Homo sapiens: one gene and its partners. The protein of the gene in region 4 purifies or fractionates together with the protein of the main gene of each other region. This does not show direct contact. Each region holds a gene or a part of one and is shown on either strand. Other genes may lie near its edges.

Region 1 (7,033 bases), on a different chromosome or scaffold from region 4:
CAGAAAAAACAATGACTTAAACACATACCTTATAGGAAAGCCAATCCTGGAGCTTATCATTAAGAAATATCAATTGGATGAGTGTTCCCAGTGATGTGTGACTGTGCGTGTCCTTGCAGGTATGCCAACAGTAGCCTCATAAAGTACATGGAGAAACACAAGGTCAAGCCTGACAGCAAAGTGTTCCTCTTGGTAGGTGCTTCTCTCCCAGACTAAAATCTGATTCTCAGCACAAATCTCGCCTTCTATTTACTCAGCTATTCCTCCTCTTTAGAAACAAAAGAAATTAGTGGATGCTGGGGTAAAATTAAATATTTTTTTTGTTGAGATGTCACCCTGTCTTTCAGCCTTCACTTTAAATGATTTATCAGCAGAAAATGAACTTTATAAGGGCTTTAATGCTGATGATTTCTGCCAATTTCACATAAAAGTATGTAGTATGCATAATCTGCAGTGAGCTACACCAAATGTATTTTATATTAATCCTGTTACACAGTAATACAAAAGACAAGGTGTTGACTTGTAAATAACCTTTTCATGTGCTGTACATTTCCTGTGTGTCACTCTAGCTTCAGAAACTCCTGACCATGGATCCAACCAAGAGAATTACCTCGGAGCAAGCTCTGCAGGATCCCTATTTTCAGGAGGACCCTTTGCCAACATTAGAGTATGTATCCTGTCTTTTCTGTGTCCTTTGCTCCAGGCTGAGGAGGCTGCATGGTGGTTGAAAGCAAGGGAAGCACTTGCTACTGAAGTATTTAACTTTTTCAATGATACCACCTAAAGACTGCTCAAGAGCAAGCTTCCACATTTTGAAACAGGCAAAGCTGCAGAGAGGGATGAATGAAAACAAGTATTTTAGGAACGACCATTTGTCAGTTTTACAGATGAAAACTAAAGCTGATAACAGATAAGACCTTTACAGACCAATTGGCCAGATCAGAAATTCAGCCAAACCAGTAGGCAACAGAAGTTAATCTGTCTTTCAGAGCATGTCCACTGCACTACAAAACCTCTCTACTCCTTCATCCTTCTTAACCCCAAGTATAGACTTTGTGTTTTCATCTATAAGAGGTGTAGTTTTTCTTGTTAAGGCAAATACAAATTAAGTTATTTTTGGCGCTAATGAAGTTAGTATAGAGAAACTTCTGTGTCCTATATGTCAACTAGCTAGCAGCAGTCAAGATTTGAACACTAGCCACAGATGAAGAGTAGGAAATAAGTGAAGAAAAACAAATTGGAATTTTAAATTAACAAGGTAATGATATTACAGATTTTAGATCATGATATGTTTTTTCTTTTTAATGATTTTTAGTGTATTTGCCGGCTGCCAGATTCCATACCCCAAACGAGAATTCCTTAATGAAGATGATCCTGAAGAAAAAGGTGACAAGGTATAAACTGCACGGTATACTTTCACTTCCAAAGAGCAAGGGAGGCAAAAAGATAGTTTAGGTATCGTTCCATAATTCCTATACATTTAACCACCTTTTCTAATATTTAATTAAATTTGAATGTATCTTATTTTCTGTGGAAGTTTGGGGATTGTAAAGGTACCTTGAAGTTTGAAGTATGACCAGCTCACAGATACCTGAGCTTCCGGTGTGTGTTACAGCCAGTTCTACTCCCGGATTCCCACTTCTTGCTCTTTCTGTTTGTTTGGTGTCACTACCACCCCTTTATGCAGGCTGGCTTTTGCTAGCATCACTCTGTTCTTTCGTCTTAACTGGATATATTGGCTCACTCTCCAGACCGCTCTGCCTTTCCAGAATCACGATTGAAAAGATTTCTTCTAGCTGTTTTAATGAGCTATAAGAAATGTATTTCTAATGTGCCTGTGGCCTTCAGTGAGATGTCTGTGACTGATTTGGAGGATCACTGTGCAGTCTAAATGAACTTCAGGGAAAGAGTCCTGTTTGGGGCTCAGCGCCTTGCCCTTTGGGAACACTGTGTTCCCTGGCTGCTCCATTCTCCAGTCCTCCCCATCACTCTAGTGTCCCACATAGATTGCTCCCCCAGGTTGGTCAGCAGCCACATGTGCATATCAAATAATTAAAGAAAGCTCCTGTTAATTTGGTTTCATACCAAGCTTGCTTTTTTCCCCTTAAAAGAATCAGCAACAGCAGCAGAACCAGCATCAGCAGCCCACAGCCCCTCCACAGCAGGCAGCAGCCCCTCCACAGGCGCCCCCACCACAGCAGAACAGCACCCAGACCAACGGGACCGCAGGTGGGGCTGGGGCCGGGGTCGGGGGCACCGGAGCAGGGTTGCAGCACAGCCAGGACTCCAGCCTGAACCAGGTGCCTCCAAACAAGAAGCCACGGCTAGGGCCTTCAGGCGCAAACTCAGGTGGACCTGTGATGCCCTCGGATTATCAGGTACTCCCTGAATGTCTAATGTTCATATGCTTTATGAAGTGGGGAAAAGATTTATCCTAGATCCTTTTAGAGTTAAGTAACACTTAACTCTTACATTTGACTGTGCAATCCTGTTTCTAGGGCATTCTATGAAGAGGAAGATTTTCATCATATTTCATGTAATTGTAAGATATCTCGTATTCTGACTTGTTTATCCTGACACCCGAGGAGAGGAAGGTAGGGAGGCCAGTGCCCCCATCCTTAAAGAAAATTTCATCATTTTACCCTTATAGCTGCCTTAGCAGTTCTGGTGTATCAGAAAAAGATACGTAGATACGCAGTTGAAAAGGGAAGGGGAGTGGTGTCTTACTTTGGACAAAATTAATTGCATTCTTTAGAAAGATATGCTCTTTCTGGGAGGAAGTAGCTACATAGATAAAGAAGAGAAGGGGGCTAAGACTGAGGCTTTTCTGAAATAACTGTTAAGTCTCATTAGAAATAATTTTGAGACTAGAAAATACTTTTTGTTATTCAGATAAAAAGAGAACACCAATTGCAGTGCTAATTCAGGAAATTAAAGGAGCTAAGTCTAAGGATTGGTATTTGGAGAGAGGTAAAAATACCCATTGTGATAACCATAGGAAATTTTGAAAAAAAAATTTTTTTTCAAGGTAGTAACAAGTTAAGAAACCATCTAGGAAGAAGGGAAAACTTAAGTTTTTTGTTTGTTTGTTTTTTTGTTTGTTTTAAGTTTAGAACCACAGTCCCTCCGGGAACTCTTGCAGATGAGTGCATAGGATAGAGATAATAGAAAACAAAACCTCTGGCAAGGGAACCATAAACTCACTGATAAGGAACTGCAATAAAGAGAAACTTTAACAAGAAAGACATAACAAATAGCTGCATAAACTGCCTTCACATTTTGAATAGCTCAACAAACTAATGTGTTTCCACACAACTACTCTGAAAAACTTCTCTTCAGAATATCCCTGCAAGCAGAAGAGTACATAATACTTCCACTTGGTTCCAATTAAACAAATTTAGGCTTCAGTTTGATCTACTAAAAACAGCTTGCTAGCTGGGTAGTAGCATGAGCATATTTGAATTTTGTTATAAAATCTGTTTCCCCTCCATTATATGAGCAACAAATGCTTACTATATACTGGTTCATCTTTGTGTGTCTGATTGAATTATATTAACCTGTGTTAAAAAATAATAATAATTTGCCTAAACACTTGTTAAAGTTGGTAAGGCAGACTTTATTCAAGGCGGGGCCATGTTAGTGCATAAAGGGACCACTGCAACAGGGGCTGGCAGTTGGGGAGGAAGACTGGACTCAATTCAGACTCCTACATGACAAGTGGAGAGGTATAGCCAAAGAGCAGGGTGGGGATCAGTGGATGGAAAGTTACCAAGAGGAAACATCCAGGATAAAAGGTCTCTGGCTAAACTGACTGCATAGTATTAGGCTGAAGGGAGGCCTGGGTAATAAGCTTTTAAAGGTGGGGGATTTTTGCCAAGCCAACTTAGCAAGATTCTTGCTCTAACAGGATTCTCCAAGGACAGAGGAAAGCCCAAGGTCAGGCCTAGTCAAGCAGAAGACTCACAGAGCTCCCTCCAACACGACCCTGTAAAACTTCCCTCCAGCCTCTTTGCAGACAACACCTCCTCTACTGTGCTGCCCCAGGCAACAACATGTTTTCATACCTTCTGTAATAAACCTGCCTTTCTTTACCCAAAACCATCTTGGTTAAAACCTTGACTGCCTGAGAGCAGCCTGACTGCAGTTTTTGTCAAAGGAAAGAGTCTTTGTCACCCAATTGTAGTCAATTATAGACAGATTACTGTATTTCTTTTTTTCCCCAAATTCAAACATTCTTTGAAATGCTTTTCTATGTCCATATTGTTCTGTTGACTTAAAAATAAACCTTTCATAGCTGAGTCCTGATGTCTGTGGAAAAAAATAATAAACCTTCCAACATATCTATTAAATGAATAGATACAGCTATTTAGTTGGAGAGACTGGCATGAGGGGCAGTCAGGTGTCCCATTACACCGAACTTGCAACTCATACACCATCTAGGGGCCAAGGGAAAAACTTTCCTTTCACTCTCTGAAAGTTCGCTGAAAAATCAACTCACAAAAGGCAGGTTAATTGGAGAAAATGTCATGGGTGTGACTAGCTAGGGCCAGTGTCTCAGGCAGTCAAGGTTTTTACTAAGAGTTCTGGGTAAAGAAAGGCAGATTTATTACAGAATGTATGAAAACATGTTGTTGCAACAGACAGCATAGCAGAGGGAGGGGCTGTCTGCAAAGAGCAGGGGCTGGAAGGAAGTTTTACAGGGTCTTGCGGGAGGGAGCTATGTGCCAAATGAGGTCATTGTGCCCACCAGTTGTTTGTGACTAGCAGTGTCTCAGAACAATTGTTCATTGTTTTTCCCCACCTGGAGCCCCTTCCTCCTTGTTGCTTACTTATCAGGACAGAAAGGCATACAACTTTGATACCAGTGGGCTGAGGGAGGTCCCCAGATGCTGGTGGGACCTCAACCCCACCCTGTGTCCAGGCTCCTAACACCATCGGGAGAAGGAATTAAAGGATGAGTCAAAAATAGCAAAAGTATGGAGATTTATTGCAGAGGGAAAAGTACACAACTCAAGAAAGGGGAGTGTGGGTATACGCAAGAGAGAATCTGGCTGGGGACAGTGGCTCATGCCTGTAATCCCAACACTTTGGGAGGCTGAGGCGGGTGGATCACCTGAGGTCAGGAGTTCAAGACCATCCTGGCCAACATGGCAAAACCTCGTCTCTACTAAAAATATAAAAATTAGCTGGTTGTGGTGGTGCAAGCCTGTAATCCCAACTACTTGGGAGGCTGAGGCAGGATAATTGCTTGAACCTGGGAGGCAGAGGTGCAGTGAGCCGAGATCGCGCCACTGCACTCCAGCCTGGGTGACAGAGTGAGACTCCATCTGAAAAAAAATAAATGAATAGAGAGTCATGCAGTCTGGTTTGGGTTTCTATCTTTATGGGTTTCTTTAACCAAAGGGTGGAATATTCATGAAAATTCCTGGAAAAAGGGGGAGATTTCTTGGAACTGTGGTGCCACCCATTTTTATGCCAAATATGGATGTTCTTGGAACTGTCATGGTGCTGGTGAGTGTGTGATTTAGAATGTTAATGAGCATATAATGATGTCCTAGGTTTTTAAGCAGAAATTCAAAGTGTGTTTCATGTAGTCTTTTTTTTTTTTTTTTTTTTTTTTTTTTTGAGACAGAGTCTCACTGTGTCACCCAGGCTGGAGTGCGGTGACGTGATCTTGGCTCACTACAACCTCCACCTCCTGGGTTCAAGTGATTCTCATGCCTCAGCCTCCCAAGTAGCTGAGACTACAGGCATGTATCACCACTCCCGGCTAATTTGTGTGTGTGTGTGTGTGTGTGTGTGTGTGTGTGTGTGTGTGTATATATATATAAATAATTTTATTATTATTATTATTTTTTTAAGTAAAGACAGGGTTTCGCCATGTTGGTCAGGCTGGTCTCAAACTCCTGACCTCAAGTCATCCACCTTCCTTGGCCTCCTAAAGTGTTGGGACTACAGGCGTGAGCCACTGTGCCCGGCCAGAAATTGTCCATTTTTATGGTTTAGGGTCAACAAAGTGTAGACAGCCATGTAGAAACATGATTGGACAGAAGGGGTATGATCTGATGCTAATAGACTGAGGGGGAAACCCAACATGGCCTGTCTAGGTTCCTGTTGGTCTCTCTAAGCGTGCATTCCTGCCTCTGGGTGTGGGGCAGGACCCCCTCTGGGACAGGAGTCTCATGACCTACAGTCAGACAGGATATGCCAGATCATTTCTTTATGTCCAGTTTTTACACAGAAAGGTAGGGGGAAGTTAGAGTAATATTTTTAGGTTTCACAGCTGGTGTTGGGGAAGTGGGGTTCTGGTTTCTATGGCTTGCCTTAGGGAAGGGGAATTCTAGTTTCTATGGCTGGCTCTGAGGAGAATGGGACTGTGAGACAAGAGGGCACAAAAAGGTCAGAGAAAAACTTTTGCTCCTGAGGCCTTCATTTTGGGGTATTGTTTTCTGTGCCCCAACAGTTCCATTAGTAGAGTTTCAAGGCTTTTGAGCTGCTTCATCAATGTATTGTAAGCAAGTACAATTAGCGCTTTGAAAAGCGGGACATTGGCTTATTTTCTGTCTAAAAAACCCTTTGTCATTAAAAAAGCTATGTTACAGCACATTAGATTCTTACATGTTTACATTATACTTTATGGCAAAATTGCCCCAAATAACGTATGAGTTGAAAGAACATTTTTCATAATAAACTTCAAAATAAAACACGTAATTAAAATTTGGAATTTTTAAAGACTTCTGTAACCAATGTGACTATTCAGTTGTGCAACTTAGGAAGGGGCAAAACTAAGTTTTGTTTTGTTTTTTTTTTTTTGAGATGGAGTCTCCCTCTGTCGCCCAGGCTAGAGTGCAGTGGCGCCAATCTTGACTCACTACAACTTCTGACTCCTGGGTTCAAGCGATTCTCCTGCCTCAGCCTCCCGAGTAGCTGGAACTACAGGGACCCACCACCATGCCTGGCTAATTTTTGTATTTTTAGTAGAGATGGGGTTTCACCATGTTGGCCAGACTGGTCTTGAACTCCTGACCTCAGG
Region 2 (7,033 bases), on a different chromosome or scaffold from region 4:
AGCTGCACAGTCAGCCCTGCAGCATTCGCAACAGTGCATGGACAAGATTCCGATGCAGCTCAGTACCGATGTGTCTGATGTGAGTACTGTGGAGGCTGCTGGGAGGTAGCTGAGTATCCCATGCTGCTCTGCGGCTGTGATGTGCTTGGTCCAGGGTTGGGATAGGCAGCATGTGGATTGGAACGCTGGAAAGGAGATGAGGGAAAAGTGTGATTCAGGTGCTTCTAGGGGAAGCTCAATCCCAATATGTGACTGAAGTGTCATTATGTTTCAAGGAAGAAAGGATGTATAGGTTTTGTGCTATGTACTAACTTTATAATTAAAGACAAAAACCCCAAATATTTTAACATCCTCTTCTCTTGAGGAAGGTCAGAAATATTGCTAGTAAATAATATTAAGCCTAGGCTTATTACTATGCTGTGCAAATACATTTTTTTCTACAGGAGTAACCCCTTTTTATGCTGTTTTGTATCTACTTGGTAAATTTGCTTGAGATGTTTACCCAGAAACTTAATGATGTATACATAAAAAATTCAAAGCTTATTTACATGCTTTCTTCAGTAGAAAACTCACCCCCACACACATGACTGAAGAGTAAAAGTGAGTATGATAGGAGAAGGTATCACAGAATCCATTTCTTTGGCATTAATACATTTTTATGCCCTTTAAACTATTTTTTTTTTCTTTTGAGACAGGGTGTCACTCTATCATCCAGGCTGGAGTGTAATGGTATAATCATTGCTAGGATTATAGGCATGCACCTCCATGCTCAGCTAATTTTTAAAAATTTTTTTTGAAGGAACAGAGTCTTGCTATGTTGCCCAGGTTGATTTCAAACTCCAGGCCTCAAGTGATCCTTCCCCTCAGCCTTCTAAACCACTGGGATTACGGGCATGAGCCACAGTGCCTGGCCCCTTTAAGCTACTGAATCTTATTTTCTGCTACAAGTTTATATACAAAAGTAAAAATATAACCACAGTAAGAAGGACGGTATTCTCAATTCTAAAATGGCACAAAGAGAAAGAATGTGATGGTTTGGGGTTCTCTAATTTTGATATGTTAGATTATTATTCCCATTCTCACACCTCTCTCTCATACTATTTGCTCCCAAGACAAACACTATAAAAGATTAACCAGAACTTATTACTTCTGTCTTTCAAAGCATATTTAATAAGACATATAATTCCAAATTCTGCCAATCCTAGAAAAGGTAACATTTTTAAAAAGAGTGGACACATGAAATGATAGTCACAAATACTATTTTAAAATTCATCCACAAAAAACCAACAACAATCACACCAACAAAGCAGCATGGCATCATTTTCTCGGTTCCAGAAGCGAAGGTCAGAGCACTGCTCTGCTTCCTTCTAAGGATGCCATCACCTTAGTGTGCAAACACATTTGTGGGCCAAGAGAGATGCACTCTTCCCATCCGGAAAGGAAGAAAAAGATACTGGAACCAACAACTCCCACAGCTGTCTGCCCTTGGTGTCCTTGTTTAGCTAACTGGAAGAGAATTACTACTCACACAACAGTGATTTCCATGGTGTGATGGGCTGGACTTCTCCCCTAACCAAAAGAAAGAGTTAATACCTAATTCTGAAAGTACAGTAACGAGCACTCGGGACCTTATCAGTTTAATAACATCTCTTTCTCTCTCTCTTTTTTTTTGTGTGTAAATAATTCTAATTGGTCAGATTTTCAGTATCCTTCCCACACTGAACCCTTGTGTAGTTGGGAATATGGTTAGAATAAGCAGAAGAGAAAAGGAGGTGGTATACAATTTTCAAAGAGGGTCTTTCCACAACGTAACTGACAATGCCATGATAGGATCCCTAAGCAGGCAACATAACAGCCTTTGTGGTCAGATCAAATATGAGTCCTGCATCTACAGCTTGCTGGGGATCCATGTGAAAGTTATTTAACCTCTACAAGCCTCAGTTTCCTGAAATGGCTGCAACACTTAACCTCCCAGAGTTATCTCATTTAATCCTTACTACAGCTTCACATTGATCATTATCCAGTCTACAAATGGAAACTGAGAACATCTGAATCACTTACTCAAGGATACAGAGAAGTAAGTGGCCAGACTGGGATCTGAAAGCCTATGTTCTTAATCACTGTGAAACATTGTTCCAAAACAATAGCTATCAAGCTCCTACCATAAGCTAGGTGTCAAGCCACTTCATGTCTAATCTGACAACAGCTGCAAGTTAGGTTTTACTAGTTTCATTTTACAGATGAAAAAACGCCAGGAGATATTATCCTACTTGTCCAAGGTCACACAGTTAATAAATGGCATAATTTGTATTTGATCATTCCAAGTCTGGTTCAAAAGTCTAAACCCTTGCTACCATACCACTGTCAGTACTTTTCCATGCCAGTAACATTTCATGTTAATGTATTTCCCTGGGTATACAGACGTCAGTATTTCTCAATTAAATCACATTTTCCCACGATCATAAACCCATATGTAAACACTGACATGCAGTCAATACAAAATAAACTTGGAATACCTGATAGTCTGAGGTCATGATAAGTCCACCTGAGGTAGTGGTAGGAGGAACAACTCTCACTTTCTTCAACGGGGGTCCCTGTGTGTGACTGCTGTCTTGATTCCCTGGGTGGCCAGTTCCATTAGTGTGGTTATTGCCCTGCTGCTGCTGCTGGTTCTTCTCAATTGGTTAAACAGAAAAAGTTCAGCTCAGAGGGAGAACAAAATATACCCACAATGGAAAATGTTATGGAGGCATTCACGAAACAAGAAGCTGCTAACAGTACTTTAATACTTACTTTGTCTCCTTTGTCATCAGGTTCTTCTTCCGTTAAAAATTCTCGTTTTGGGTAAGGGATTTGACAACCGGCAAAAACGCTGATCATAAGAAAAAGAAAAACCATTTCTGGTATACTAATCAATATTCCAAATGCTTCATTTAGGAGATTCTCATTTTAATCTTTTAAGATGAACTTTGTCTCCATATTTGCAAATATAAGCACCTTTCATGTAACTGTGACAAAACGAATCTTTTCTTTGTAACTAGTAATATTACAGCAGGCTACTTGAGGGCTTGAGCTGTATACAAATGATCAATAATCATCGAGTATGATTCAGCTTTCTTCTTTTATCCCAGCATTACTCTTCTATTAATACAGACCAAATATAGATTCTAGCTGAAGTATGTGTCACCATTCAAAGGTAATTTTTGTTTTACCCTTCCTACTACATTTATTAACAAAACAAAAGATGGTATAGGGAACACATTTGGGAATATTTGCAATTTTGGAACATGAAACTGTAACTGCAGACAGTAAGGAGCTACAGCACGCATAACCAACCTGTCACTGAATAGCTGGATCACTACTGAAACTAATGTGATCAGCATTTCATAAAGCAAGAGATGAACAGGAATGCCTCTTAACTGGAAAGCCCCTAAATGACACTTTAATCAGCAAAGCTCATTTTTGCTTGTCATAAAGGATTTCCTTGGGTTCCCATATAAGAGGAGGAGCAACTTAAGAGCTGACAAGCAGAAGAAAGCATACTCCAAAACTTCCATCATGCTGATGAGTTAACCAACTAGGCCACTTACTCTGATGTAGGAAGTGGGTCTTCTAAGAAATAGGGGTCCTGCATAGCCTGTTCTGAGGTAATTCGCTTTATTGGGTCCATGGTAAGCAGCTTCTGAAGCTGAAATCACAAATCATACAAACATGACGGTATTGCTTCTCACAGTTATCTTTCAGCACATATGTGAAGACGATATATATTTTTTGGTGAATAACATCACAATTTGGAAAATATTTATTCCCCCAAATTAACAACAAAACTCCTAGTTGTTAAATTTAATGTAGTAATTCACACTTTAGTCATTCCAGTTTCATAATCTCACTTGTTTTACTCTTGCTTATGTTCTCTGACTAAACAAATGGATCCCCACCCCCATTATCTAAATGGCTTTATCCAATTTAGAACAGGACCAAAATTTGTGTATTTTCTATTCTTTTTCTATTAAGATAAAAAAGCTGTTGTTACACATATAATACACTAACACATGCAGTGATTCATATTTAGATCCAAGTTAATCAAAACTGAATTAAATAAAAAAGTCAATCTCCCCATTACACCAGGCACATTTCAAGAGCCAAATGTGGCTAGTGGCTACGCTACTGCACTGTGCAGATCATCACAGAAAGTGGTACTGTGCAGTGCTGTTCTAGTCTAAATAAAAATGGTGATACACAACTTACAAAGTACAGAGCTGTGTGATGAGCAGAGACTCTGAAAGTCGACTGCTCCATTCAAATCCTGACTCAACATTTATTAGCTGCGTGACATTGGATAAGTTACCTTAATATTTTTGTTACCTCATTTGTCAAATGGAGATTAAAAATGGTGACTATTATCACAGGTTGTTTTCAGGATTAAATGAGTTAATATATGGAGAGCAATTATAATGGTGCCTAGCATAAAGAAAGTACTATGTAAGTGCTTGCTCTTATTGTTATTATTACTATAAATGCCACACTAATGTGAAGATTCAGTATTTTTTAGTTAAGACATAGTTCATTCAATTGGATTCTAATATGTGGTCTCTTAGTTTATACTCTGATCTAATGCAGTGGCTTTCGGACTTTAGGATGCATGAGAATCACCTGGAGAACTTCTTAAAACAGACTGCTGGGCCCTCCTCACAGAGTTTCTGATTGGTAGATGTGAGTAGGAGCCAAAAGCCTGCATTTCCAACATGGCCCTACATGATACCATGCTGCTGGACTGAGACTGCATTTTGAAAACCAATGAACTAACAGACACATTAAGACTTAAAAGAGAGGCCAGGTGTGGTGGCTCACACCTGTAATCCCAGCACTTTGGGAGGCCAAGGTGGATGGATCACCTGAGGTCAGGAGTTCGAGACCAGCCTGGTCAACATGGTGAAACCCCATCTCTACTAATAATACAAAAATTAGCTGGGTGTGGTGGCAGGCGCCTGTAATCCCAGGTACTCGGGAGGCTGAGGCATGAGAATGGCTTGAACCTGGGAGGCAGAGGTTGCAGTGAGCCAAGATCACACCACTGCACTCTAGCCTGGTGACACAATGAAACTGTGTCTCCAACAAAAAAGACTTAAAGAAAGATGACAAATTTTACAGGATAAAAAGACATTTTTTTTTTTTTTTGAGATAGAGTCTTGCTTTGTTGCCAGGCTAGAGTGCAGTGGCACGATCTAGGCTCACTGCAACCTCCACCTCCTGGGTTCAAGCGATTCTCCTGCCTCAACCTCCCGAGTAGCTGGGACTACAGGCATGTACCACCACACTCAGCTACTTTTTGTATTTTTAGGAGTTTCACCACATTGGCCAGGATGGTCTCAATCTCCTGACCTTGTGATCCGCCCGCCTCGGCCTCCCAAAGTGCTGGGATCACAGGCGTGAGCTACCACGCCAGGCCGACACGACATATTTTAAGATGCAAATAAAACGCTAGAATGGTGAGATTAAAATTTAATTTTAATGATCTGATATTTCAGAGAAAGCACAATTTTATTTTTAGGGTTGAAAGGAAAGGCCTGAATTTGCTATTGAAAATACCCAACAGTTTTAATGGAATTATAATAGGGCTTTCCTAAGAGACTACTCAAGATTACCTCCAATTAAGATGGGTCACCCTGGTAAAAACAAGCACATAAGCTACAAGGAAGGTATATCTCTAGAGTTTTAGTGGTGATGGTAGGCAGAGTCATCCTAGACTATAATGAGTAGCAGGGAATCAAGGAGAATAATAATTCCCCTAAGTCATGACTTCTAATCTTCTGCCACTATCATTATTTTATTAGAATCAGTAAGTCCATAATTTCGAAGGATCTAACTTAGACCTCTAATTTGGGTCCTACTGTAAGTACATTATAATAAACCATTATCTGGATAATATATTGTGTGGTAATATGACAGGTTAAGAATGACTTTTTAAATTGCTGTTAAGATATGAAATACATGATATAAAATGTGAACTGATATAATAGTAAGTAGAAAATACAGAAGGAGAAGCAGTAGAAAGCGAAGAAAAAGGAGAAACAAAGGAAGAACAGAAGAAATGTTTGCCAAATGGCCTGGTTGCAATAAAGGAAAGGTTAACCTCTTCAAGGTGAAAGAATTCTCATTTAAGAACTTAGGAATAAGGATTAAAAGAATTTCAAGCCAAGCAAAATACAACCTGCTTCCCCAAACTCCCCTTCTATGTGTTATAAACCTTTTTCTAAAACAAAAAACATTATTAATTATTACGCTGTAACAATGGAAATTTTATTGTAAACAAAGTTGGTAATGGCTGTATATAATTTCATCACAAATTACCTTGTTAGTGCACGGATTCAATTAGATTCTAGGTTAAATCATTTTTCCATTACACACTGATAAATATGGCATCTATCACATTCTTCCAGAAAAATCAAATAGCACATATAATCGCTGAATGACTGTTAACATTTAAGGTTATAAGAGGTATTTTGGAAATTAAGAACTTTGTAAACAGTCTTTCAAAGAGCTGAAATACAAAACAATCTATTTATCAATGGTGAGAAGTACTTTCTTCTTGATACTTCTCTGGAACTTTTAAAATCTTAAACAGACGAAAAACAATACATGTAATTTTATAAATGTTTTGACAGATTTGTTACCATCGCTATCTTTAGAAAATCTAATGTGACCAAACATTAGTCTGTCAAACCATGATATGAGTCTGGAAGAGCAAATAGTTTATTGTCTTTATTGGTATGCACTAACAAGATCTCTGCATTTACCATGAAAGCACTCTGAGTGCTAGCTAAGTAACCACATAAATTGATCCAAAAAAGCCTCAGTTGGGCTAGTCAATTAAGGAAAAAATGCATTTCATTAATACTGTTAACCAATGCTTACCAAGTGGAATGCTTTACTATCTGGTTTAACTTTATGTTTTTCCATATACTTGATAAGGCTGCAGTTGGTATACCTGAAAGAGAAATACTATGAAATAGCTATATTAGACTTGAGGTTA
Region 3 (7,033 bases), about 23 Mb from region 4:
ACCTTGAGCTAGATACAGAGTGCCGATTGGTGTATTTACAATCCCTGAGCTAGACATAAAGGTTCTCCACGTCCCCACCAGAGCAGCTAGATACAGAGTGTAGATTGGTGCACTCACAAACCTTGAGCTAAACACAGGGTGCTGACTGGTGTATTTACAATCCCTGAGCTAGACATAAAGACTCTCCACGTCCCCACCAGACTCAGGAGCCCCGCTGGCTTCACCTAGTGGATCCCGCACCGGGGCTGCAGGTGGAGCTGCCTACCAGTCCTGCACGTACGCTTGCTTTCCTCAGCCCTTGGGTGGCTGATGGGACTGGGCGCCCTGGAGCAGGGGGTGGTGCTCGTCAGGGAGGCTGGGGCCGCACAGGAGCCCATGGAGTGGGTGGGAGGCTCAGGCATGGCGGGCTGCAGGTCCCGAGCCCTGCTGCGCGGGAAGGCAGCTAAGGCCTGGCGAGAAATCGAGCTTAGCGCCGGTGGGCTGGCACTGCTGGGGGACCCAGTACACCCTCCGCAGCTGCTGGCCCGGGTGCTAAGTCCCTCATTGCACGGGGCCAGCAGAGCTGGCCGGCTGCTCCGAGTGCGGGGCTTGCCAAGCCCACGCCCAGCCGGAACTCCAGCTGGCCCGCAAGCGCCGCACGCAGCCCTGGTTCCCGCTCGCGCCTCTCCCTCCACACCTCCCTGCAAGCTGAGAGAGTGGGCTCCAGCCTTGGCCAGCCCAGAAAGGGGCTCCCACAGTGCAGTGGTGGGCTGAAGGGCTCCTCAAGTGCTGCCAAAGTGGGAGCCCAGGCAGAGGAGGTGCCGAGAGCAAGTGAGGGCTCTGAGGACTGCCAGCACGCTGTCACCTCTCACTTGTGCAAGTATTTTGGTAAGATCATTTTCTAAAAGTAGGGATTCTGGGTCAAAGGTTATATATATTTAAATTTTTGACAGATATTACCAAAATGCCCTCCAAAAAAAAAACTGTACTGATGTAGATTATCTGTAGCCACGGAGGACACACTTCTCCATCCCGCCCTGGATGATACTGGCTACTACTTACCTATCAACTGTGTTTCTCTGCTCCAGTTCTGCCAAGACCTATGAGGCCTTCCGGAGAGGGAGGCCTTGAACTCACACCCTTGCTTTCATCTGCTAACAGCATTACATGTAAAAAATATTCTTTTTAGCAAAGAGTGACAAAAGGTGCTGCTGCTAAACGGAGTATGAAAATCACTGCACTACAAAATGCCCAGAACGTGTTCATCCACTCCCGAACCCTCGACACGGGGACCACCTCCCCAGTCAGCCTTCCTTCCTGTACTTGAGTTTCCTCCCTCCACAGTTACCAAGTCATTCCTGCCTGGAGTCTGGCAGATGGCAAATATCCAGCATAGACTTGCTGTCAGCAGGGGACGGGGGGAGGGTGCAGTCCCACCTACACACTCTACTGGCCACGCTAGGACCCCCAGGCTTGCACCTGTGTGCCCCCTTCTTCCAGCCACCATCCTGCCAGCTCCATCTCCTCTAGACCAGCCACCTCCCATTGCCACTGCCTTCCTGTGGACCCAGGTCCTCCCCTCTTCTGAAACACTTCTGCCCCACCTACCTTTAGAAACCCAAGTCTGAGCAGGTCACTATGCTGCTTAAAAATCCCAGATGGCGGCCGGTGGCTCACGCCTGTAATCCCAGCACTTTGGGAGGCTGAAGTCAGCAGATCACTTGAGGCCAGCCCCGTCTCTACTAAAAATACAAAAAAAAAATTTTTTTTTGTATTTTTACAAAGGCGTGGTGGCGTGTGCCTGTAGACAGAGACGAAACCCTGTCTCTACTAAAAATACAATTTTTTTTTGTTTTGTTTTTTACAAAGGCATGGTGGCGTGTGCCTGTAGTCCCAGCTACTTGGGAGGCTGAGGCACGGAAATCAAGTGATTCAAGTGAACCTGGGAGCCAGAGATTGCAGTGAGCCAAGACACGCCACTGTACTCCAGCCTGGGCGACAGAGTGAGACTCCATTTCAAAAATAAAAAATAAAATAAAATAATTCCAGATGGCCTCCTACCCACAGATAACACCTTTCAGGCAAATTCAAACTGTGAAGGAGACCCCCCCAGTGCCACCACAAGTGCTTCCAGCCTTCCTAGGCAAAGCTTCCCACCCTTCCCAGGACCCACGTAAATGCTTGCCTGGCATTTCTCACGCCCACTAAGGAAGTGCTGACTCGCGAAGGCCTGCCTTCGTGGGGCTTGCCTCTGCTGGGGCCCACCTTCTGGTTATAAGTCATACTGAGTGGATGGAAATGACATGGCAGAGGAGTGAAGAGGCTTTTAGGCAGACTGGAAACACCTCATCTGAGCAGTCTATGAACACCCCCTATCTGTGGCTGCTCATCCTGCTCCCTGGGGTGTGGCTGAGGGAGAAGAAAGTGAACGGCAGAGGCCTGCAGTAACTGCATGCGGACTATCCCCGGGAAGCCAGTGTGGGCACTTAGCGGGGGCCGCTTCCTGCACAACCCGGGAACGGGTCTCAGCTGGCATGGAAGGCCAGGGCAGATTAAAATAGATACTTGAGTGGGAAGAAGACAGTCAATAACACCCTGTTCCCACAAAAGAGGTCTGGCTGGGGCTCTGAGGTCTTGCTGACCTGCTGAAGCGGCCAGGCCAAGCTGGAGGGGCCAGACAGCGTGCTCATCACTTGAGCCCCATCTGTGGTGGCAAGGACGGCTCCCCTCTACCTACCTAGCAGCCTTAGACCTTGTAAAGAATTAAAACATTGAATTTAAAAAATGTTTTTAAAGTACCCAATGTCGACAGATTACTCTTACAAAGTGAGCCAAAACCATCACGCAAGGCAGCAACAACTGTAATTCAGAAGGCCTAGGCTGAGCTACTTCATTCCAAACTCAGATTCAAATTTGTTAAGTTTGAAGGAAAAAATAATAATTTTCCCCAATCTAACAGACCCCATTTCATTACTCCTTTATGATGCATTTTTAAAATGTAGCATCTATATATATCAAGAAAGTCTCAAAGTTGGGATTTATAATATTTCTTATAGGCATGAAAATGGGATTTCTTTTCCCTTTCCTCATTCTTTTTTTTTTTTTTGAGATGGAGTCTCGCTCTGTCGCCAGGCTGGAGTGCAATGGTGCGATCGTGGCTCACTGCAACCTCCGCCTCCCGGGTTCAAGCGATTCTCCTGCCTCAGCCTCCCTAGTAGCTGGGATTACAGGCGTGCACCACCACATCCAGCTAATTTTTGTATTTTTAGCAGAGACAGGGTTTCACCGTGTTGGCCAGGATGGTCTCGATCTCCTGACCTCGTGATCCACCCGCCTCGGCCTCCCAAAGTGCTGGGATTACAGGTGTGAGCCACCGTGCCCAGCCTCCCTTTCCTCATTCTTTAAAAATAACATAAATGTGTAGTTTAATTTTTCATTCAACTGCGGGAAAGACACTAGAAGAGATGAAAGTGCTATGGGTTCCAACTCCAAGCAGGGCTGTCCCAGCCAGAGCACTCCCAGAACCAGGTGGGTCCCTGGGGGTACAGGAGAGGCTCTGGTTCACAGGGCTCTGTGCAGCATTTCTGTGGGCACTTCTAGTGGAGGGGCTGGAGGGTCTGCCAGCCTGGAGGACTCCGCCCACCCAACAGCACCTGCAGCAAGAGGACCCTCTGTGGGCTTTGTGTTGGGTTATTCAGGCAGACAATCTGAAAATGGTCTGCAGAGATCCCTGAGTAAAGGCCTAAGTTTGGGCTCAATTTGAGAAGAATGGAGAACAAAGAAAAATTAGCCAAATAACATTCACAAGATAAAATAAGCATAAAGGCAAAGAGACTAATTAAATGCTGATTATAATACTCAAAAGCGAGGCTCAACGACCTGGCCAATGAGTAGTATCAACAGGCTTGGAAGTAAAGAAGCAGATTAAAGACGAAATGTTCCATTAACAAAAGCATCATGATCTAGCATCAGGCAGGCTGCTAGAAAACTCCACGGGAAAGGAAGGGCCAGGGAAATACTGACAAGAAAGAGGAAGGGTGAAAAATTAACCTTAAAAGATAATTAAATGTACCATGAAGATTTAAGAACTAAAATAGTTTGGTGCTGGAGAAGGAGAGAATGTCCATAAGTAGATCAGAAAACATGTGGGAATTCAGTGCATGGTAAAGGTGGCACTGCAAGCAGGGAAAATAACAAATATTCAAAAACAGCAGTGGGAAGATGTGGCTAACCGAGGCCCCCTTATTCTTCCCACCAAAATAAATTCCAGGAGCCTCAAAGAATTACAAGTAAAAAATGGAACCATGAAAGTTCTAGAAAAAAGAGATCAATACCTATAATTTTAGAGTGGGAAAGCCTTTCTAAGTAGGACCAAAACTCAGAAGCCATAAGGGAAAGGCCTAACAAATCTGACTACATGAAATTATATGCATCTGAATGAAAAACAAATAGAAAAACCATGACTATGAACAAAGTCAAAAGAAAAGCAACAACCTGGAGGAAGTATTTACAGTACATTTGACACACATTATTTCCTTTCTGTACATAAAAAAATCTAACAGAGAAATGGACAGTTTATAGGGAAAAATAAAAGTGACATATAAAATCGCCTATGAAGGGATGCTTTACCTAACTTAATGAAAGATCAATATATCATTTCTGACCTATGAGATTTGCCAAAGTTAAAAGTTTAATGGTGATGGCAGGTGATGGGGAAAGACACAAAAACTGTTGGTGGAAGCATAGATCAGGGCATTCTTTGCTCATAGTGACCCAAACAGATTCACATATCCCATTGCTAGAAATTTACCCCCACAGAGACTACCAAGAGTTCACCAAGATAGCATGGGCAAAGATGCTTGCTGCAGTGCTGATTCCAACAGCAAAATGCAGAAACAATGACGGTGTCCTTGAGCAAGAAACTGTTTACATAAACGACAGCACGTTCATAAAGTGGAATATTACACAGCTTTGCAAGGGAGCTGGGAGGAGTGAAGGGAGAGGCCCTGTTTCCATTTCATATCCATGGGTACTTGTAGAATCCGTCTACAACTTTAATTTTTGTTTAATGCTTTCTGGGTGGCAGATTTATAGGCCATTTTAGGTTAACTGAAGCAGTCTAGTCTACAAGGACTGAATTTTGGAAAAGAGTTAGCTAAAAAGACGTAGTGCTCTAAATTTAGCATAACTATCACTATAAAAAATGTTTGTACCCTATGCCCCAGCAATTCTACTGCTGGGATTTATCTGATCATAAACTTACTCCTACACAAAGATGCTAACCCCAGCACTGTGCTGGTAATAGCAAGAATAAGAAAAACAGCTAGAAGACCATCAACAGAAAACCAGTTCCATCAGTTATGCTGCATCCACAAGATGCAATTTTCTGCAGCTGCCTTAATGAGGTAGATCTTTATGTGCAGTATGGAAAGGTGGCCAAAAGAGACTAATCAGTGAAAAAAGTCAAGTACGACGTGATCTCAATTTGTATAAATTTTTGAAATGACATTCATATGTAATTCCCAGAAGGAACTTAGGAAAGTATTAACAGCAGTTACTACAGGTGAGGGGACTTGGGGGAAGGAACACATTTTCCATTTTACGTTTCTCTGTACTTCTAAACTTGCAGTTGTTACTTTTATTAAATAATTTTTCAAAAACTCTGAATTCTTTATGAGAACAAGAAAGGCTAAATTCACTACTTCAGATTTTACCTCCTTACTCACCCCTGTGCAAGAAGTAAACAAAGAATAAAAGGATCATTGGGGAAGTTATAGGAAAGGAAGGGACCCAGGGCCAGAGAGCGCCACCTGGGTGGACCGGACATGGTCCCAGCCCTCATCTCCACCCGCCAGTACTGTGTCTTGACTGGCTTCCAGCCTGACAGTTTCACTAGCTCCCCATCCCTCAGAAGACACCTGCACTCTGTTTCCTGGCTCTTCCCTCCTCCCCAGCCACCTCTTCCTGCCTTGGATGTATGCTCAACACCACCAAGCTAGAAGCTGACTCCCATGAGTAGATGCTATTTCTTGGCTTCGTGTCCTTACATGTTTTTCCTATACCAACATTCCTCCTGCCTCCCTTTCCTAATTGAAGACTCATTGTTGGCATCACTCTTACCAAGCCTTCTGACTCCCCCAGGCTTCACGAGGTCTCCTCTCCCTTCCTCCTCTGCCCTTATTCCTCCCTCATTTGCCTATAAACTCAAAGACACGCCTATACTGAAGGTTTGCAGGTTGGATCCTAGCCTCTTCTCATGTTTACAGCTGCAGAACCACTCCATTCCTTTGTGGCTACTGTTTCCTCCACGTGGCTTTTTCTGCTCTTCTGTCTTGTCTTTCTCTTTTTTCCTCTCTCTCTCTGTCTCCTCTCTTTCTTTCTTTCTTCTTTGAGACAGAGTCTATGTCACCCAGGCTGAAGTGTAGCAGTGCGATCATGGCTCACCGTAGCCTCAGCTCCCTGGGTTCAAGCTATCCTCCCATCTCAGCCTGCCCAGGTGCTGGGCTTGCAGACAGACATGAGGCACCGCGCCTGACCCGTGTCTTTCTTACCAGGGGGTTTCTTCCTATGCTTAGTGACCTTGGCCATCCACTCATATATTTAAGAATAAAACACTAAAAGGCTTAGTGGAAGCTCTGCAAATGAGTGATGCTTGTTCATTTTCTCAGAATTAATTGACTAGGCTTTTTTTTTTTCCAATGTCTTTTCTCTTAATTGGTCACGCACCATAGAGAGGGCACTTCCACTCTCTTTGGCTGCCAATCTAGAAGCCAGGTGGGGGAAGGCTCGGGTGGTGTCTCTCTTCAGACTGTGAACTTTCTCTTAATCCCTCTTTTCAGTATGGCTCCCCCTACCTACCCCTGCAGTGTGCCTGGTGTCCCACAGTCAAGGTACTCTCTGGCTTATTCCTTCCTAAGAATAAATCTCGGGAGAGTAACCTTTTAACCATCTGCCAAGTTGGAAGAAGGGTAGTCACCCGGCCGCTTGGAGGGGATGGGAGGTGGGACAGGACTGTGGGGACCTGCTTCTTAAACAGACTTCCAAGTAATCTTCC
Region 4 (4,838 bases):
GAAAGCAGGGTCAGAAGTTCCCACTGCCAGCTCGGAGTCATCCATCTAGGGGCTCAGAGATGTGTGAGGCAGGCAAGGAAGGGTTAAAGAAAGGTCCGGCCCCTCATCCCCCCGCCTCCCATCCCCCAGTCCTTTTTTGGAGGCAACAGATCAAATCCCAGGCTAGTCAGAGTGTGGGTGGTGTTGGACCAGGTTCGGGAGACAGCAGAGCAGGCCACCCTGCCCCAGCACTGTGGGGCCCTGAGCCAAAGCCTCTCCCCTTTCAGGGTACAGCTGGCTTTGGGGGAGGGGGCAGCAGGCCAGCCAACTTGGCTCCAAGGAAGGGAAGCTGCTTTCCCCTGGCCCTTCCCCAGCTGAGCAAGCCCACATAGGACCCTGAGCCCTGCCGCCTCTGCTCCTCTTCCTCCTCCTCCTCACCACAGGAGTGAGCCGTTCCCTGGCCACAGCACAGGAGTCCAGGGAGAGGACACTATGCCCTGCCCCGGGTGGCACCAATACCAACAGCACACACAGTCACAAAGGGAGCCACGAGGAGCTTTATTTATACATGAACGAAGGTAGATTTCCCTCACATATTACAAAATACACACAAACACACACACACACACACACACACACACATACACACTTTGCATCTAGAAAGTTCCTCAGAGGTAAGACTACTCCTGGGCTGGGGCGGGCGCACACAGGGGTGACCACTGGGCTTGTGGTCCAGGCTGCTCACTCTCCTCAGGTGCCAGCAGATGGAGAGGAAATTTTGAAAGAAGAAACCGGGAGACATCCTGGAGGTCAGGAGTCAGGAGCGGGGAACTGGAAGCCGCTAGAGGCTCTTGCACCATGTGGAGCGGATGTGAGGCACGATGCCTCATCTTTCCTCACTGCTTCCCTTGGAGGCGCCTGGGGCTGCGCCAGTCCCCAGCCCCCACTGCGGCCATGCCAAGCCCCTCAGAGTGCAGCAATGGCTTTAGCAGCCACCTGGCGGCCCAGGGGCAGGCTGAGGTCCGTGATGGCCAGAACCACCTTGGGGCTGGACATGGCTGACACCTTCACCAGTTCCGACACCTGCCACGGACAGACAGATGCTGCTTGCGGGACGGCTGGTGGTGGGTGTGCTGTCCCAGGGGGAAGGAGGCCCCTCCCTGCTCTAAGGGCTGCCCCGAGGCCCCAGCACCAGCAGGAGAGCCGGGAAGGTGGTACTCACGGTGGTGAAGGGCATGAACTGCAGGACGCTGCCACGGCCACCCTGCTCCAGGCAGTCCACACACTCCTCCATGAACCACTGCACGAACTGGGTGTGGGGGCCAGCGGTGCGAGACCCCAGGATGGAGGAGATGAGCAGGAACAGGTTGGCTGTAGAGAGTGGGGGGAGAGTGACAGGAGGGAGTTCCATGAGAGTGGGTGAGGTCACACTCTGGGAGAAGGTGGGACTGAAAAGGGAAAAGAAACACATGCTGAGCATGTCCCCAAAATGGGGTGTCAGAGAGAGAAAATATAAAAGGCAATTGGGGAGGGGAGGAGGGGGAACTAGACAGGAGCCTGGGGGCCAGGACAGCCAACAATGAGGGGCATGGAGAGGGAAGGGAGGGGCACCGCAAGGCCCCTTCCAGCTGACAAGGTCTCCCAGCCTCCATGAGAAGAGAGACTCGTCCAGCTTAGCCCCAGGTTCGGCAGCAGGGGTGGGGAACTCACCCAGGACTCGGTTCAGAGGGTCCCGCATGTTGACCGTGTGGAGCTGAGAGGCTGAGAGGGAGCTGCTCATGGATCGGTCTGCTGTGGGACGGAGCAGATGGAGCGCTGGGAAACAGCCTGCCGAGTGCAAAAGTGGTGCTCCCCGGGGATGCCCCAACCCGACCTTCACCCATCGGAGGTAACTGGTACATGGAGAGCCCAGAGAAGACCCTGAGATCAAGAGCACAAAGGGAGGCCAGGTACAGTGGCTCACACCTGTAATCCCAGCATTTTGGGAGGCCGAGGCAGGAGGATCGCTTGAGTCCAGGAGTTTGAGACCAGCCTTGGCAACTAGCGAGACCTCATCTCTACAAAAAATACAAAAATTAGCTGGGTGTGGTGCCAACGCCTGTAGTCCCAGCTCCTCGGGAGGCTGAGGCAGACTGCTTGAGCCTAGGAGAACAAGGCTGCAGTGAGCCGAGATGGTGCCACTGCACTCCAGCCTGAGCAACAGAGCAAAACCGTGTCTCAGAAAAACAGGCTGGGCGTGGTGGCTCACGCCTGTAATCCCAGCACTTTGGGAGGCCAAGGCGGGTGGATCATCTGAGTTCAGGAGTTCGAGACCAGCCTGACCAATATGGTGAAACCCCGTCTCTACTAAAAATACAAAAATTAGCCAGGCGTTGTGGCAGGCGCCTGTAGTCCCAGAGACTCAGGAGGCTGAGACAGGAAAATTGCTTAAACCCAGGAGGCGGAGGTTGCAGTAAGCTGAGATCGTGCGACTGCACTCCAGCCTGGGCAACAGAGGGAGACTCCAACTCAAACAAACAAACAAACAAACAAACAAAAAACAAAACAAAAAAAGGGCACAGAGGGACCTCAGATACAGAGATCCCAATGGAATGAGAGAGAAAAACTAACATGTGGTGAGCACACAGGGCCAGGGGCCGATCTTGGTACTTCCTAAGCTGCTTACTCCTCACAACACCCCATTTACAGATGAGGAGACCCAGACGGGGGCTGGCTCAGTCGCTAGCTAAAGGTCACAGCACTTGTAGCTGGCAAACCTAGCATCTTTCTTCTGATCAAGTGTATAGTTGGTCCCCTAGTTCCTAAAAGGCTTCAGAGAAAAGTTCAGGCTCAGGAGAAATCTCTGGAAACAGGAAAAATGCCACAGAAGGAACCCTTGGCAGTAAGCCTGGCAGGGAGGAGGGGACAGTGAAAAGGATGACCTCCAGGGAAGTGGTTGGTGGGGGGTGTGCTCTTTAGGCAGGAAGGTGGGGAGTAGCCCCATGCCCCAGCCCGGGCCTCTCCGGGCATGTTTTGGGGGAAGGAAGGAAGGAAGGTCAGAGCTGGTGAGTCAATGGCACAGGCTGTGCCTGAGGCAGTGAACTCACTCACTTGGGTAGCTTGTCATCCCCTCAACCCTGGGGTAAGGGAGGGGCAGGAGGGCTGTGGGGGAACAACTGTGGGCTGGGCTGGACCTGGGCAGAGGAGCTTCAACCCTCAGGGAGTGAGAACAGCAACCTCTTCTCCAGGGGCAGGACACAGAGCACCCCCTTGGGGGCTAGAACAGCAGGTCCCTGCCACACCCTCTCTGACCAGCTGCAAAGATGCCTGCAGCTGGGGCAGCGGCAGAGTGGCAGCATCGGGGAGTGAATTCCCAGGAAAAGGAGCGGCGCGCGGCCAGCCCACACACTCACTGGGGCTCGAAAGGATGTTGGCATCGTCCTCATTAGAGCTCAGCAGTCGCATCAACTTCGAAGGCTGCACATCGTCCAGGGGGAAGAGGCTGATATAATCCTAGAGGGAGTGAAAGTCACTGTTATACACCCCTAAACCCCCCAGTTTCCAGCTGTCAGGGAAAAGAGCTTGAGCTCCGATTTGAGCGAGGTCAGCATGGCTAGCAGGGCCTCAGCCCCTCTCTGCTCAACCCCTCCCACAATCTGACAGGCCCCTTGTGCCCATGGGCAAGCTGGGGCCACACAAATCACCCATGCAGATTCCTGACCAATCATGCCCAGGCACAGCTGCCCCAAGGGCAGGGGCCACAACTGCTTCCCTTTGCCTGGGGAATCCTTAGGAAATGCTGTAACAAACCGGTGAACAAGTGAAGCCGGCGAGGGCAGCTGGGGGGCCTACCTCAATGTCTTCGCGGTGTCTCTTCTTCTGGCGGGTGGACGCCTGTCCCTTGTGGGAGGAGTAGGAACTGAGGGCACACCACACGGCCAGCCTGGCAAAGGGTTCCAGAAAAAGGGGGACAGTGAGAGGTGCCCCAGGAGCTTTCTGTGTCTGACTGGGCTCCCCAAAGCCCAGTCTCCCAGGGTGGCACCAGGCGAGGGGTGCTTGACCCTGGGTGGCCGGAGCAGGGCAAGCTCTGAAGAGAATCTTACTTGGCAAGAGCAGTGCCCGGGGGGTCCATGAGGCTGTGCCACTTGGAGGAGTCAGTGAGCAGGCCAGGTAGGATGTGGCCCAGCAGGACCAGGGTCACTTGCTGCATGTCCAGGCAGAAGATGGAGTAGAGCAGCTCCACTGCCCGCAGCGTGTGCTCCTTCCGCGTCTCCTTCAGCAGCTCCTAGTGCGCAGGAAAGGGGGCAGTTCAGGAGCCAGGGGCCCGGGATCTGGGGCTCCTACACCCTGCCACCCCAGCATGGCTGTCCAGTAAGGCCCGCAGAGGGGGCCCCAGATGTTGCTCCGCCCCTCAGGCTGAATCCCAGTCTCTGGCCAGAGCTCCCCAAGGAGGCAACTCTGAGGCGAGGCATTCCGGGGAGGCCACCTGGCTCACGGCAGCCTCTCAGGGAAGCCTGGCAGACCAGGCCAGGTGTGGGGAGCCAGGGGACAGGACCCATGTCGGCCCACAGCCACTCCAGCCCAAGTACCTTAATCAGGTTGTTGCAGAACCAGTAGACGCCGCCCATGTGCAGCAGGGTGTCAAAGATGTGGATGGAGCGGCTGTCCACCCAGCCCTTCTCCAGCACCTTGGCAAAAATGTCCGTCAGCACCTCTTTGATGGGCCGCTTGGGGGGCAGCAGGTTCCAGTAGGGCATTGTGTCCACCCCGGTGGAGGGAAACTTGATCTGCGTGGCTGTCTGCTGCAGCACGTCGGCACACATGCGCTCCAGGATCGAGTTCATGATCACCACCCTGGGGGAGGGCCGAGAGAACCTGAG

The links.
Region 1: the proteins of MED24 (region 4) and CDK19 purify together in Homo sapiens (affinity purification with mass spectrometry; 8 studies listed by BioGRID and IntAct, with this or other methods). This does not show direct contact.
Region 2: the proteins of MED24 (region 4) and CDK8 purify together in Homo sapiens (affinity purification with mass spectrometry; 15 studies listed by BioGRID and IntAct, with this or other methods). This does not show direct contact.
Region 3: the proteins of MED24 (region 4) and MED9 purify together in Homo sapiens (affinity purification with mass spectrometry; 5 studies listed by BioGRID and IntAct, with this or other methods). This does not show direct contact.

Annotation. Positions count from the first base shown.
Region 1 is NC_000006.12:110,616,449-110,623,481, reverse strand, and holds part of CDK19 (cyclin-dependent kinase 19), read left to right. Parts: intron 1-3; coding exon of another isoform or gene 4-94; exon of another isoform or gene 95-113; intron 114-119; coding exon 120-192; intron 193-569; coding exon 570-667; intron 668-1,315; coding exon 1,316-1,394; intron 1,395-2,111; coding exon 2,112-2,378; intron 2,379-7,033.
Region 2 is NC_000013.11:26,397,108-26,404,140, reverse strand, and holds part of CDK8 (cyclin-dependent kinase 8), read right to left. Parts: intron 6,989-7,033; coding exon 6,916-6,988; intron 3,689-6,915; coding exon 3,591-3,688; intron 2,873-3,590; coding exon 2,794-2,872; intron 2,676-2,793; coding exon 2,517-2,675; intron 186-2,516; coding exon 60-185; 3' UTR 1-59.
Region 3 is NC_000017.11:17,479,988-17,487,020, reverse strand, and holds part of MED9 (mediator of RNA polymerase II transcription subunit 9), read right to left. Parts: intron 1-7,033.
Region 4 is NC_000017.11:40,018,584-40,023,421, forward strand, and holds the end of MED24 (mediator of RNA polymerase II transcription subunit 24), read right to left. Parts: intron 4,813-4,838; coding exon 4,548-4,812; intron 4,244-4,547; coding exon 4,062-4,243; intron 3,902-4,061; coding exon 3,811-3,901; intron 3,472-3,810; coding exon 3,372-3,471; intron 1,771-3,371; coding exon 1,690-1,770; intron 1,351-1,689; coding exon 1,202-1,350; intron 1,063-1,201; coding exon 946-1,062; 3' UTR 521-945; downstream 1-520. UniProt on the Homo sapiens protein: Component of the Mediator complex, a coactivator involved in the regulated transcription of nearly all RNA polymerase II-dependent genes.